2 separate regions of the Homo sapiens genome follow, and region 2 is linked to region 1. A link means that fine-mapping ties the variant in region 1 to the expression of a gene that starts in the linked region. Tissue or cell type: neutrophils. Region 1 holds a variant in brackets; the other region holds the start of a gene. All regions are shown on one strand. Distances are from middle to middle.

What was found. PIP is the estimated chance that this variant, and not a neighbour inherited with it, causes the effect.
Region 2: GGCX starts here. The variant in region 1 is fine-mapped to the expression of GGCX in neutrophils (BLUEPRINT, PIP 0.91).

What each region holds. Positions count from the first base shown.
Region 1 is chr2:85,506,558-85,514,660 of GRCh38, forward strand. No RefSeq gene overlaps it. Among named protein-coding and RNA genes, the nearest start is that of PARTICL, 28 kb to the right of the region's middle. RefSeq lists a silencer at 6,791-6,970. The variant C/T (reference allele first, on the strand shown) is at 4,317.
Region 2 is chr2:85,557,136-85,565,223 of GRCh38, forward strand. It overlaps GGCX (gamma-glutamyl carboxylase), which reads right to left and starts at 4,358. Exons shown (of 15, transcript NM_000821.7): 1 at 4,251-4,358; 2 at 3,680-3,850; 3 at 1,782-1,940; 4 at 1,305-1,470. The coding sequence starts at 4,293. RefSeq lists an enhancer at 4,332-4,561.

The DNA of each region.
Region 1 (8,103 bases):
GTGTTCATATGGGTAAAACTGGAAGGCAATTGGTAAAAATAAAGAGTAGTGTGAGGGCTGTTAGATTATGAGTGATTTGTTTAAATAATCTGTGAATATTGTTACTGCACTGTTTATGCATTTGAAAAGCCTTTTTTTTTTATCCTAACCAGTAGACCACCAGGGATAAAATGATTTTTAAAAATACATAGAGGGCTTTAAGAGTCATTGAAACATTCCACTCTTGGATGTAAGCTCATTAAGTCTTTCTTAGTCAGCAACTACTAGGGAATGGGAACAGGGTGGGTGGGGGGCTTGGCAGTCTTTTAGAGACTTTACTCACGGAATATTTATACACAAATAGCTGAGCAAAGGAGGAAAACTTCTCAAAGTTGATTTTTTTGCCTGCAAACGTTAATTCCGTGGGGAAAGGACAGAAAGATAAACAGTTTAAAATAACCAAATGAAATCATGTGAGCTTGTAAAGATTTTTTTTCTCTCTCTCTCAACAAGGATGGGATGTCCATGAAGTCCTCTCGGAGCTTCCCGGATTTTTTGTGCTCTGAAGCTCCAGCAGTGGGGAGCGGGGCTGAGAGAGGGAGATGGGTGATGTGGCGCCCATCCCTCCAGGCAAGGACTGCCCTGGCACAGCTTTCCTCTTGATTCCCTAACCGCTCTTTACATGTTTATTTTATCTCTATCAGACTATGGGCTCTCACAGATGAAGACCATACTCTTCCTGCAAAACACTCGGTCCCACAGCACATGTAATATCTAAGAGGAACCTGAGAGGTCACTGGTCTAATCCCCTCATCAGACAAAAGAGGACCAGACTCAGAGAGAGAGGCACGTGCCATAGCGACACAGCCAGTTTCTTTGGAGGCCTGGTCTCAGCTCTGGACTGCTCAAGCCTATCCTTGACAGTGGCACTGCTCAGCCTGGACATTTAGAGTGTCCTTCTGATACAAATGTATTGAGTCTCTGCCCCTGAGCTAGAAAGATGGCAAAACAAAGATAAGAAAAGGCCAAAAAACCAAGCTCCCTAACATTAAGGATATTATAATTCAGAGGGAAAGATAGGGCACTCTCACAGACAACTAGAATACAAGCAGAAAGTGAGGATGAGTTGCAAGAGGCATACACCTAGTTGGGAAAGAGCCTGCTGGGGAGATGGACCAAAAAGGGCTCCACTGGGATTAAGCCAGCCCTTGAATGGGGATCAAAATAATGCAAATGAAGTCAGAGGCACTGAATCAGTTCATTTATTTAACAAACACTGACTACCATGTGCCAAACAAGGATCTAGATACTCAGGAAACACATCTCTACTAGCCTCATGGAGCTTACATTCAAAGAAGGGTAGGGGACAGGCACTAAACAAAATATATAAGTAAAAGTAGGTTAGATAGGCTGGTGGGAATGTAAAATGATGCAGCCATTATGGAAAGCAGTATGGTGGTTCCTCAAAAAATTAAACATAAAATTACCACTTGATCCACCAATTCCACTTCTGGGTATATACACAAAAGAATTGGCCGGGTGCAGTGGCTCATACTTGTAATCCCAGCACTTTGGGAGTCCGCGGCGGGCGGATCAGGAGGTCCGGAGTTCAAGACCAGCCTGACCAACATGGTGAAACCCCATCTCTACTAAAAATACAAAAATTAGCTGAGCGTGGTGGCGCACGCCTGTAGTCCCAGCTACTTGGGAGGCTGAGGCAGGAGAATCGCTTGAACCTGGGAGGCGGAGGTTGCAGTGAGCTGAGATCTTACCCCGGCACTCCAGCCTGGACAACAGAGCGAGATTCCATCTCAAAAAAAAAAGAATTGAAAGCAGGGACTCAAAGAGATATTTGTATACTCATGTTCATAGCAGTATTATTCACAATAGCCAAAAAGTGGAAGCAACTCAAATGTCCTTTGACAGATGAATGGATAAACAAACTATGGCATATACAGACCATGCAATATTATTCAGTCTTTTTTTTTTTTTTTTTTTTTTTGAGATGGGGTTTTGCTCTTGTTGCCCAGGCTGGAGTGCAATGGCGCAATCTCGGCTCACTGCAACCTCCGGCTCCCAGGTTCAAGCAATTCTCCTGTCTTAGCCTCCAGAGTAGCTGGGATTACAGGCGTGCACCACCACGCCCAGCTAATTTTGTATTTTTAGTAGAGGTGGGGTTTCACCATGTTAGTCAGGGTGGTTCAAACTCCTGACCTCAGGTGATCCACCCGCCTGGGCCTCCCAAAGTGCTGAGATTACAGGCGTGAGCCACCACGCCTGGCTAGTCAATCTTAAAAAAGGAACAGAATTCTGGCTGGACATGGTGACTCATGCCTGTAATCCCAGCACTTTGGGAGGCTGAGGCGGGTGGATCACCTGAGGTCAGGAGTTCAAGACCAGCCTGGTCAACATAGTGAAACCCTGTCTGTACTAAAAATACAAAAATTAGCCACGTGTGGTAGCATGCACCTGTAGTCCCAGCTACTCAGGAGGCTGAGAAAGGACAATTGCTTGAACCTGGGAGGCGGAGGTTGCAGTGAGCCGAGAGATTGCGCTACTGCATTCCAGAATGGGTGACAGAGTGAGACTCCACCTTAAAAAAAAAAAAAAAAAAAGGAATGAAATTCTGACACAAGCTACCACATGGATAAACCCTCAAAGACACTGTGCTAAGTGAAATAAACCAGACATAAAAGGACAAAGATTGGCCAGGCTTGGTGGCTGGCCGGGCGCAGTGGCTCATGCCTGTAATCCCAGCACTTTGGGAGGCTGAGGCGGGCAGATCGCCTGAGGTCAGGAGTTCGAGACCAGCCTGGCTAACATGGTGAAACCTCGTCTCTACAAAAATTAGCAAGGTGTGGTGGCAGGTGCCTGTGATACCAGCTACTTGGGAGGCTGAGGCAGGAGAATCGCTTGAACCCAAGAGGCGGAGGTTGCAGTGACCCAAGATCGCACCACTGCACTCCAACCTGGGCGACAGAGCAAGAATCCATCTCAAAAAAAAAAAAAAAAAAAGAGAGAGAGAGAAAGATCCTAGTGTTACAGTTACATGAGGCACCTAGTGTAGTCAAATTCATAGAGACAGAAAGTAGAATGGTGGTTACCAAGGGCTGGGGGGAGTGGGGAATGGGGAGGTAGCGTTCAAAGAGTATAGAGCTTCAACAGTTGAGGAAGATGCAAAAGGTCTGGAGATGGATAGTGGTGATGGTTGCACAACAATGTGAATGTAATTAATGCCACCGAACTGAAAACTTACAAACTATTAAAATGGTAATTTTTGTGTGGTGTATATTTTACCACAGTGAAATAAGTAAATAAAATAATAGGGAAGGGAGTAGGTTAGATGGTTTAAGTGTTACAGGAAAAAAATGAATAAATCAGGGAAGAGGGATGGGGTACCGGAGTGAAGCATCAATGTTAAACAGGGCATCCAGGGTGGCCAGGGAAAGTCTCACTGAGAAAGCAGCATATGAATAAAGATCTGAAGGAGGTGAGGGAGTGAGCCATATACGGCAATCTGGGGGAAGAGTGGTCCAAACAGAGGAATCAGCAAGTGCAAAATTCCTGAGGCAGGAATGGCAATAGGGCCACTGTGCTAGAGCCATTTTCTTTATTTTATTTTATTTATTTATTTATTTATTTATTTATTTATTTATTTATTTATTTTTGAGACGGAGTCTCGCACTGTAGCCCAGGCTGGAGGGCAGTAGCAGGATCTCGGCTCACTGCAAGCTCCGCCTCCCGGGTTCACCCCATTCTCCTGCCTCAGCCTCCGAAGCAGCTGGGACTACAGGCGCCCGCCGCCACGCTCGGCTAACTTTTTTGTATTTTTAGTAGAGACAGGGTTTCCCCATGTTACCAGGATGGTCTCGATCTCCTGACCTTGTGATCCGCCCACCTCGGCTTCCCAGGGTGCTGGGATTACAGGCGTGAGCCACCGCGCCAGGCCATTTTATTTTATTTTATTTTATTTTATTTTATTTTATTTTATTTTATTTTATTTTATTTTTTAGATGAAGTCTTGCTCTATCGCCAGGCTAGAGTGCAGTGGTGTGATCTCGGCTCACTGCAACCTCCGCCTCCCGGGTTCAAGCGATTCTCCTGCCTCAGCCTCCCGAGTAGCTGGGATTACAAGCATGTGTCACCATGCATGGCTAATTTTGTATTTTTAGTAGAGACAGGGTTTCTCTAGGTTGGTCTTGTCTCAAACTCCTGACCTCAGGTGATCCACCCACCTCGGCCTCCCAAAGTGCTGGGATTACAGCACTTCACCATGTTGGCCAGGATGGTCTCGATCTCTCGACCTCGTGATCCGCCCACCTCGGCCTCCCAAAGTG[C/T]TGGGATTACAGGCGTGAGCCACCACGCCCGGCCAACTCTGTGCCTCTTTGATCAATTCCAGTGGTACCAGGTAAACTGCTTATGAGTGAAATTTAGAAAAACCTCCCCCAGCAGTGGGGGAAAATGCACAGTGCATAAGGCCTTATTTGGGTGAGGAGTTGGGGGAGTGAATGTATTAACCTTGTAGTGAAGTCACCTTAGATTCTAGTAGTTATGCTTCTTTCAGGAATATGACCACTCAGACCATAAAAGCTGGATGTGACCATGGTTTCATTTCTTTGGAAATGATTCTGCCAGAACAGGAACTGAGAATTTTTTCTCTGTGACCTCTGGGTGAGTTTGTGTTCCATGAGAACATTGGGCTTTGCATTTCTCAGTACACTGCTCTCATAGCTCTTGGGTTTGGAAGAGGTCACTGTCATCAAACTTTTTATGACTTTAGCCCTCAGAGAACCAAGGATAAAGGTGAATAAAGAACGCATCCAAGGTAGAAAGCTCCAACACCCCCGAGATGTTTACTTTCTATAAAACCTGGAGTCTCATGCCAGAGGGATTATATAAAAATAAAGCCAGGGTAGCCAAGTGCAAACCGTAGAGTTATCAACAGTGCTGTGAGATGAAGTCTTTTGTTCAAGGTCCTTTAATTGCCAGATGCAAAAGATAGTAAAATGGATTCTTTTATTCTTGAAACTTTGCCAGCCTCGTGGCTAATGCCCACTACAGCTGCATTAAAGGCTCTGAGGATCTCTGCCAAGATGTGATGATGGCCAAGAACCAGTGATGACTTCAGGGGACCTTTCTCAACCTGCCAGCCCTGCCATCTTGGCCTAGCCCACAGGCCACTGCCTGACCCAGTCTGATTTATAGCTCCCATGGGATCGCTGTCAAAAAAGGATCCTATGGGATCCTTCCATAGAGGCTAATATTCACAGAACGCTTTAGAAAACGAGCTTAAAGTTTAATGTTGAGGGATGTTGTGGGCCAAAGGGTGGTCCTGAAGGGAACTTCTCTGAAATTCTGTGCTAGGAGCTAGGACTCAGGCACAGTGTTATGTGTCTCAGGCACAGTGTTATGGAAAGAGCATAGGATCAAGGGACAAGAAGTCCGAGATCAGTTTTTTTTTTCAGCTTTATTTCAGTATAACTGGCAAATAACAACTGTACATATTTAAGGTGTACAACTTAACGGTTTTTTTTTTTTGGAGGGGGTGGGGTTGTTTTTTTTTTTTTTCTTTTATTTTGTTTTGAGACAGAGTTTTGCTCTTGTTGCCCAGGCTGGAGTGCAATGGCGCGATCTTGGCTCACTGCAACGTCTGCCTCCCGGATTCCACCAATTCTTGTGCCTCAGCCTCCCGAATAGCTGGGATTACAGGCGCCTGCCACCACACCCGGCTAATTTTTGTATTTTTAGTAGAGATGGGGTTTCACCACATTGGCCAGGTTGGTCTCAAACTCCTGACCTCAGGTGATCCACCCACCTCTGCCTCCCAAAGTGCTGGGATTACAGGCATAAGCCACTGTGCCCAGCCCCTGTTTTTCATTTTTTTAGAGACAGGGCCTCTCTCTGCTGCCCAGGCTGACTGCAGTGGCACAATCTCGGTTACACTGCAAACTCCACCTCCCAGGCTCAAGTGATCCTCCTGCCTCAGCCTCCCAAGTAGCTGGGACTATAGGTGCATGCCCCACACCTGGCTATTTTTTGATTTTTTGTAGAGATGAGGTCTTACTATGTTGCCCAGGCTGGTCTCGAAATCCTAGGCTCAAGTGATCCTCCCACCTCAGCCTTGAAAAGTGCTGGGATTGCAGGCATCAACCATCATGCTGGTCCAACTTAATGTTTTGATATAGGTATACATTATGAAACAATCACAATCAAGACCATTAACATATTCATCACCTCACATAATTATCTATTCATTATTATCATATTATTATTATTATTTTGAGACCGAGTCTTCCTCTGTCACCCATGCTGGAGTGCAGTAGCATGATCTTGGCTCACTGCAGCCTCTATCCCCGGGTTCAAGTGATTCTTGTGCCTCAGCCTCCCAAGTAGCTAGGATGACATGCATGTGCCACCATGCCTGGCTAATTTTTGTATTTTTAGTAGAGTCGAGCTTTCGCTATGTTGCCTAGGCTGGTCTCGAACACCTGGCCTCAAGTGATCCGCCTGCCTCGGCCTTTCAAATTGTTGAGATTACAGGCATGAGCCACCATGCCTGACCTATTATTTTTTATTTTGTTTTGTTTTGCTTTGTTAGAGTCTCACTCTGTCGCCCAGGATGGGGTAAAGTGGTATGATCTCAGCTCACTGTAACCTCTGCCTCCCGGGTTCAAGTGATTCTCCAGCCTTGGTTTCCCAAGTAGCTGGGACTACAGGCGTGCACCACCATGCCCAGCTAATTTTTGTATTTTTTAGTAGAGACGGGGTTTCACTATACGTTGGCCAGGCTGGCCTCGAACTCCTGACCTCAGGTGATCCACCTGCCTCGGCCTCCCAAAGTGCTGGGATTACAGGCATGAGCCACCACGCCCGGCCCTACTATTATTTTTTTAAAGGAAGTCTGAGGTTTACTCATGGATTCACCTCTGTGCTGGATATCTTCTGTTGCCTACTCCATCCGGGAGCCACTCCCTACTCTCTCTCTTCAGTGCCCAGGAGACTGACCTGTGTAGAAACCTCAGCAGGCTCCCTTGCCCTCTGGCTTCCAATAAGGCCAACGAGGGTCTCCTTTAGGGGATCAGAAGGAGGGAGGACAGAGGGGTTGGGTGTTAATTATCCTGAGTTCTTAGACCTAGGAGGTCTCTGTGCACTGACACTGCAGGCCTCTCCAGTTCTGGTGACCTGGCCCTCCTTCCTCCCTCCATGGCAAGCCTATGTAGCTCCCCACAACAACACACTGTCCCTGTGGCTTCCCTGCACCCTGCCCCTATTTTTGTAAAGAGTTCCTTTATTAGGTTCTGCTGAAATTACCCAACTGGAGTGTGCCCTCTGTTTCTTGCCAAGACCCTGACCAATGCAGCCACCAATGAGTCCAGTGACCCTGGTCACACCACTTAGGCCCCGTGGCTTTGGTTTCTTCATCTTTATTTATTTTTAATTTTTTTATTTTTTAAAATTTTATTTTTATTTTTATTATTTTTGGGTTTTTTTGAGATGGAGTCTCGCTCTGTGACCCAGGCTGGAGTGCAGTGGCAAGATCTCGGCTCACTGCAACCTCCACCCTCCAGGTTCAAGTGATTCTCTGGCCTCAGCCTCCCCAGTAGCTGGGATTACAGGCACCTGCCACCATGCCCGGCTAATTTTTGTATTTTTAGTAGAGACGGGGTTTCACCATGTAGGCCAGGCTGCTCTTGAACTCCTGACCTCAAGTGATCTGCCCACCTTGGCCTCCCAAAGTGCTGGGATTACAGGCATGAGCCACCGTGCCCAGCCTAAAATGCCAGTTCTTACACACTTGCTTCACGGGGCTTTCATAAGGATTATAATAGATATAAAGCACTAAACAAACATAATCTTTAAAAAAAAAAACATAATGTGCTTTCTAAGTTTCACAATTCCAGAATGCGTAAAAATAACAAGTTGTCTTTTATATCAAGATGCTGCTGCCAATACGCAACTGCTCAAATATGAACTCTGAGCAGTTTTTCTAAAATTCACGATGGTTTTTATTGAGTACGCAAAAGGCTAAACTAGATTTCACTCTGATAAACATAATGATATTACGTGACCCAATAATATTAAATCCTAAAATCTATCCCAAACCCAGGCAGATAAGACAGCTAA
Region 2 (8,088 bases), 51 kb after region 1:
AACATAAAATGTGAACAGCACCATCGACCTTACAGGGTTTTAATGAGGAAAAACTCTAAATATTTAGTATAGTGCCTGCGATGTGGAAAACCCTGAATAAATGATAAGTGATTTTTTCAAAATGCATAAAGTCATAAAAATGGAACTTCTGACTAGCCTGAGCAACATAGTGAGATCCCATCTCTACAAAAAATTTTAAAAATTAGCTGAGTGTGGTGGCACACACCTGTTGTTCCAGCTACTCAGGAGGCTGAGATGGAAGGATCACCTAAACACAAGAAGGTTGAGGCTGCAGTGAGCTATGATCACGCCACTGCACTCTAGCCTGGGCGACACAGTGAGATGCCATCTCAACAAATATCCCCACAACGGAACTTTTCAGAGATATTCTATCAAAACTGCCTCTTAATTCTCTATGATCAGAGCTGGCCATTCTGAATGAGTTTCAAGTTTTACCAAAGGGGTTTTGTATGTGTGTATTAACAAATAGGCCGGACACAGTGGCTCATGCCTGTAATCCCAGCACTTTGGGAGGCCGAGGTGGGAGGACTGCTTGAGCCCAGAAGTTCAAGACCAGCCTGGGCAACAAAGCGAGACCCCATCTCTATTTAAAAATAAATAAATAAAAAGAAAAATAAATAAAACTTAATGACTGTTAATGAATTCAATGTTTGAGTTTTTTTCCCCATACTCATGTTATTGACACCTATTTTATTACTTTTCACTCAACATATAAAGAATCCTTAAGGTCAACTGCCCCACCACCTTATCTCCAAATCCCTTCTCCACCTCCCCTTAGAGACAGTCACCTAAGCCAGAAATGGGGAAGGGTTACCTCCTCCGAGAACAGCAATGCTGAGCAGCCCTGGTGGGCCCTCTTCTCCTGACATGATCTCTGCCTCACAGCAACTTCTACTTTTGGCTCTAACTCTGCCCTTCTGGACTCACACAGAGAAAGTCTGCTCCCTCTTCTACATAACCACCCTTAAAGTATCTGAAAACAGCCATGTCTGGCTTTAGTATTCTGTTTTTCTCTCTAAGAGGGTTACAAGAGGTGAATAAATCAAGGCACCTGGGGAGATAGGGAAAGACTGAAGGGGTGGGATGGAGCCATTTTGCTTTGTGTCATCCCAAGCGCTCCAACTAGTTGGCCCTTTCCCCTCCCAAATCCACCTAGATCAAAGTGACCTTGTAACCATACTTTGCAAACATGACTGAAAAATTCCAGAACCTCACTGGGCCCCTATCTCTGATAACCATCCTGACCCAGCCAACCCCTCCCCTTTGTCCCCCCTGACTCATACCAGTAGTGGTTTGCATCCATGAATGTTAGCTGAAAGGCCAACAACCCATACAGATAGGAGTGGTTGTTCCATGATGTCTTGTCCAGGAGAAACACATACCAGTATGGCAGCAGGAATAACACACAGCTTATCCGGTAGCACAGGCCCAGCATCATGCCCAGTGCCCCTGGGATTTGTAGGGAGAGGATTAAGAGGTCAAGAGATCACCACAGGCCCAGTTTCCCTGGACCAGGATATGGTTGGAATTAAGAAAAATCAAGCATTGTATAATCACATAAAACTAAATGAAAATTAAATGTTATTTTAATATTTTAAAAAGAATTATGGGATCACAGCTTAAGTGACACACAGGTCAACAGCATGAAATTGATCACAGCAGAAGTGAAATAAGGTGCCAAAGACTTTGACCATTCACCAGCATGCTTCTATTTCTGTGTTTCTGGCAGGCCAGTCAATATTTCCCACAGTTCCCCTCACCCAGAAACATGATGGTGTAGACAAGATACATCCAGTCAAGTGGCAGTGGGCGTAGGGCATCCAGCAAGGGGAAGCGGCACACATCCAGCCCATCAAGGTATTTCCGGTCCAGAGAGCTGAGCCCCCGCTCCTGGGGAATGTCTAGCACCATCAAGAACCCTAAGAAGGCAATAGGGGAGTTGGTCATTGGGCCTCAGCTAAGGAAGCAGTAGAATACAGTGGAACACAGTTGACAGTGTGCAGCTCCAGGGTCAGACTTCTTTTCTAATCTTGGCTCTGCCATTTATTCAGTATTAATTATTGAGTGCCTACTCTGCACAGTACTACATCTGTTGTGCCATCTAGAACAGCCCCTGCAGCTCGGTTAACCAATTCCCCATTTGTGAGAAGGGGAATACATCACAGGACTACAGAGAGGATTAAATTACAGAAATGCACAAAATGCTATAAAAACTGTTAGGGTCTTGACAGCTATAAAGATCCATCCTATTGAGCTTCAGAAAGTGCTCTGGGAGGCCAGGCACGGTGGCTCACGCCTGTAATCCCAGCACTTTAGGAGGCTGAGGTGGGCAGATCACCTGAGGTTGGGAGTTCGAAACCAGCCTGACCAACATGGAAAAACCCCGTCTCTACTTAAAATACAAAAAAATTAGCCAGGTGTGGTGGCGCATGCCTGTAATCCCAGCTACTCGGGAAGCTGAAGCAGGAGAATCACTTGAACCTGGGAGGCGGAGGTTGCAGTGAGCCGAGATCACACCATTGCACTCCAGCCTGGGCAACAAGATCGAAACTCCGTCTCAAAAAAAGAAAGAAAGAAAGAAAGAAAGTGCTCTGGGAGTGCTTCTCAACCTTTTCTGCTTCCTGGCACACTCCAAAAACAGTTGCATTTCGTCAACACCCTGGGAATAAACAGAAGAGGCTACTCAGATCAGGAAGCCAGCTTGAGATAAAGCAGGGTTTCTCAACTTCAGGACTAGTCACATTTTGGGCTGGTTAATTATTTATTGAGGGGATTATCCAATGCACTACAGGACATTTAGGAGCACTCCCTGACCTCTATAGAGATGCCAGCAGCCACCTATTCTTCCTCCCCCAAGTTGTGACAACTAAAAATGTCTCTAAACATTGCCAAATGTCTCCCAGGGAGCAAAACTCCCTCCAGTTGAGAACTACTGGGCTAAGGGGACTAATATCTCTGCACATCTGTAAACCATTCCAAGCACACCATGCTGCGGCCTCAGTTAAGAAGCTCTTGATTAGGGAGTCACAGCCAAAAGGTATGGTCCCTGTGGCCCCCTGCTCTGTTTCTCTGAGTCTTCTGGGCAACTTCATGCCACAAGCAAAATGGGTCACTGCTGCCTCGCCTCTACATATCATATAGCATTTCTAGCTGGGTACGGTGGCTCACACCTGTAATCCCAGCACTTTGGGAGGCCGAGGCAGGCGGATCACCTGAGGTCAGGAGTTTGAGACCAGCCTGGCCAACATGGTGAAACCCCGTCTCTACTAAAAACACACATACAAAAAAAATAAAAAATTAGCCGGGTGTGGTGGTGGGCGCCTGTAATCCCAGCTACTCGGGAGACTGAGGGAGGAGAATCGCTTTAACCCGGGTGGCGGAGGTTACAGTGAGCCGAGATAGCGCCATTGCACTCCAGCTTGGGCAACAAGAGCGAAAGTCCGTCTAAGGAAAAAAAAAAAAGCATTTCTGGCCACCAAGTAAATCCTAACTGTAGGAGACAAAGCAGGTTTAATCCTAAACTTCGCAAAGACCTCTTCTTTTATACCAATGTCTTCAGCTCTGAGGAAAAGGGAGCTAAGTCTACTTGCAACCAAAAAATAGAGATTGTCATTCTCCACTCTCAACCAAATTGCTCCCACCCATAAACTGGACTCACCAAAAAGAAAACGAAAGACAGCTAAGCTTGCAGGGTCCGTTGGTCGATTCAGCAGGGTCACCAGCCTCCGCCAACTGGACAAATCTGTCCACTCAAAACCCAAGAGTTTCCCTATTCGGCTGTCCTGCCTGGGCCCTGAGATCAGTTCAGCCTTGTCTTTCTGTACTTTATCTGCAATCAATAAATGGAGAAAATATGTGTGCGGGGGTGGGCTCCACCTCAAATCAAAGAAATCACTGCACCAACAGCTCAGAGCTTCCGCCCACCCGGGTCGGCTCAATGAGGTTGCCTCAATGATCTGACTATAGGAAACATCCCTGCAGTGCAGCCCCCTCTCCACGATCCCCTAATGTCCCAGAACCCCTCAGACTACAGTCCCCTAACCGCAGTGTTCCCGAATGTCATCATCATTCAGAAGCCGCAGGCTGCAAATGTCTCACAGCACGCCCCCTTCCCCACAGAGGACCCCCCCCCCGCCTCACCGGGAGACACTGGGCGTCCTCCCGCCCCCGCCCCTCTGAGACCAGCGCTCCTAGGAACTCTCCGCCGGAGGGCGGGGTCCTAAGCCTACCTGAGCTGGGCGAGGTCCGCGCGGACCCGGCAGACACCGCCATTGCTCTGCGGAGGAGGCAGGTGGGTCACAGCTGCCGCGTCTGAACGGAGGCCGCCAGGAGAATTTGCTTCCCTAGGCTCCGCCTCCCGACGCGTCAGCGGCTGTGCGGCCGGCCGCAAAGCGCCAGCACTGTCGTAAATACTACCCACGACCGGCGGCGCCGGATTCCTTGCTTGGCGGCAGGGGGCGGAACAAGGAGCCTTGGAGCGGGGCAAAGGTACCCCTTAGTGCCGTTGATCTCCAGGGGCATTGTTAGACTCGCCTGTTATGCCTTCCGAGGGGGCCTCTGCTTTTTAAACACTGAAAAGAGTCTGAGTTCCCCAACTTCCTTGGGTCCTCCCCGACCCCATTAGTCCTCTCCGTCCCTGCGTCCCTGCGGTGCTCTCTGGTGTGAGGGATCGGGCGCAAAGGGCAAACTTTTTGTCAGAGTGACGCCGAGTTGAGGACGCGCCTGGAAATGTTGCCTGGGTTTTGAGCCATTGCACGACCCCTTCACTTTCTTTTCCAGGACCTGCAAAGAACCGAGGTTTCAAAGCAGTAGGGGCCGGGCACTGCTCTCGCTTGTAATCCCAACAGTTTGGAAGGCCAATGCGGGAGGATCGATAAAGAAAAAAAAAAAAGGCAACAACAAAAAAAGAAAAAACACTAAAAAAAAAGTTAGCTGTGTGTCGTGGCGCGCTCCTGTGGTTTCAGCTACTCGGGAGGCTGAGGTGGGAGGTTCGCTTGAGCCCAGTAGTTCGAGGCTGCAGGGAGCTGTGATCGCACCACTGCACTCCAGCCTGGGGGACACAGTGAGACCCCGTCTCAAAAAAAAAAAAAAAAAAAAACAAGCCGGGTGCGGCAGCAAGCCTGTAATCCCAGCACTTTGAGAGGCCAAGGCGGGCGGATCACTTGAAGTCAGGAGTTAAAGACCAGCCTGGCCAACATGGTGAAACCCCGTCTGTACTAAAAATACAAAAATAATCCGGGCATGGTGGCGTGCGCCTGTAATCCCAGCTACTCGGGAGGCTGAGGCAGGAGAATCGCTTGAACCTAGGAGGCGGAGGTTGCAGTGAGCCAAGATCGCGCTACTGCACTCCAGCCTGGGCGACAGAGTGAGACTCCGTCTCAAAAAACAAAAAACGAAAAAGAAAGAGAAAGAAAAGAAAAGGCGGGAAGAAAAGAAAGAAAGAAAATTAAAAGCAGCCAGGGAAACAGGAACAACATAACTGAAGAGGGGATACAGAGCAAGGGCAGTGAGTAGAGTGTGGCCCATCAGGGAAGGTTCTCAGAGGTGAGTCTGGAGCAGAATTAAATACCTAAATCTCTCCACTGGGATTAGCCAGCAGGAAAAGAAGAAGGCATCCCAGAGAAGCGGTTCTCAAACAGTTGGGTCTTGGGAACCATTTACAGTGTTAGAAATTATAGAAGACCCTAAAAGCTTTGTTTATGTGGATTATATCTTTCAATATTTGCCGTATTAGAAATTTTTTTGGCCGGGCGCGGTGGCTCACGCCTGTAATCCCAGCACTTTGGGAGGACGAGGCGAGTGGATCACGAGGTCAGGAGATCGAGACCATCCTGGCTAACACGGTGAAACCCCGTCTCTACTAAAAATACAAAAAATTATCCGGGCGTGGTGGCAGGCGCCTGCAGTCCCAGCTACTCGAGAGGCTGAGGCAGGAGAATGGCGTGAACCCAGGAGGTAGAGCTTGCAGTGAGCCGAGATCGCACCACTGCCCTCCAGCCTGGGCGACAGAGCAAGACGCCGTCCTGAAAAAAAAAATTTTTTTTTTTGAGGCCAGGCGCGGTGGCTCACGCCTGTAATTCCAGCACTTTGGGAGGCCGAGGCGGTTGGATCACTTAAGGTCAGCAATTTGAAATCAGCCTCGCCAACATGGTAAAACCCCGTCTCTACTAAAAATACAAAAAAAATGAGCCGGGTGTGGTGGCAGGCGTCTATAATCCCAGCTACTCAGAAGGCTGAGACAGGAGAATCACTTGTACCCGGGAGGTGGAGGTTGCAGTGATCCAAGATCGAACCACTGCACTCCAGCCTGGGTGACAGAGTAAGACTCTGTCTCAAAAAAAAAAAAAAAAAAAAAAGGCCGGGCACGGTGGCTCACACCTGTAATCCCAGCACTTTGGGAGGCTGAGGCAGGTGGATCACAAAGTCAGGAGTTCGAGACCAGCTTGACCAATACGGTGAAACCCCGTCTTTACTAAAAATACAAAAATTAGCCGGGTGTGGTGGCACGTGCCTGTAATCCCACCTACTGGGGAGGCTGAGGCAGGAGAATCGGTTGAACCCGGGAGGCAGAGGTTGCAGTGATCCCAGATTGCGCCACTGTACTCCAGCCAGGGTGAAAGAGCAAGACTCCATCTCAAAAAAAAAAAAAAGCTTTCTAACTTCTACTACAAAGGAAAAAAAATGGCATGTTTCTGTAGTCTCAGCTATTCCCAGCTTTTCTGGAGGCTGAAGCAAGACAATCACTTTAGTTCAGGAGTTTAAGACTAGCCGGGGCAACATAATGGGATCCATCTCAAGGAAAAAAAAAAAAAGCTATCAAGCCATTAGAAAACATGGAGGAACCTTAAATTCATATTGCTAAGCGAAAGAAATCAATGTGGAAAGACTACAAACTATGATTCCATCCATATGACATATATATATGTATTTTTTTGAGTCAAGGTCTTGCTATGTTGCCCAAGATGGTCTTAAACTTCTGGTCTCAAGCAATCCTCCTGCTCAGCCTTCCAAAGTGCTGGGATTACAGGCATGAGGCAGTGCGTTTGGCCCCAACTGTATGATATTCTGAAAAGGCTAAACTATGGAGATAATAAAAAGATCAGTGACTGCCAGGGAAGTGGAGTTGGGGGGAGGAAGGGATGGTAGGTGGAGCACAGGGGAGTTTTACAGAAGTGAAACTATTTTGTATGATGTAATAGTGTCATGGTGGATACATGTCATACTTGTGTGTGGAAAAGAGTAAAGCCTAATGTAACTTATGGACTTAGTTAATTATAATGTATCAATATGGACTATGTTTTTTTGTTTGTTTGTTTTTTGAGACGGAGTTTCCCCCTTGTTGCCCAGGCTGGAGTGCAATGATGCGATCTCGGCTCACTGCAACCTCTGCCTCCCAGTTTCAAGCGATTCTCCTGCCTCAGCCTCCTGAGTAGCTGGGATTACAGGCACCCGCTTCCACGCCCAGCTAATTTTTTGTATTTTTAGTAGAGATGGGTTTTCACTATGTTGACCAGGCTGGTCTTGAACTCCTGACCTCAGGCGATCCACCCGCCTCGGCCTCCCAAAGTGCTGAGATTACAGGCATGAGCCACCGCGCCCGGCTGGGCTATGTTAATAATATACCAATACTGGCTCATCAGTTGTAACAAATGTACCACACTAATGCAAAAAGTTAATAATAGGAAAAATGGGGAGCCTGAAGGGGGATATGGGAACTCTCGGTACTTTCTTCTTCTTCTTTTTTTTTTTTTCTTTTCTTTTTTTTGAGACAGAGTCTCCCTCTGTCGCCTAGGCTGGAGGGGCAGTGTCACAATCTTGACTCACTGCAGCCTTGTCCTTCTGGGCTCAAGTGATCCTTCAACCTCAGCCTCCCAAGTAGCTGGACTACAGGCGTGCACCACTGTGCCTGGCTAATTTTTTTTATTTTTTGTAGAGACGGGGTTTCACCATCTTGCCCAGCCTGGTCTCAAACTCCTGAGCTCAAGTGATCCTCCCTCCTTGGCCTCCGACAGTGCTGGGATTAAAGGCTTGAGCCATTACTCCCAGCCTGGAATTCTCTGTACTTTC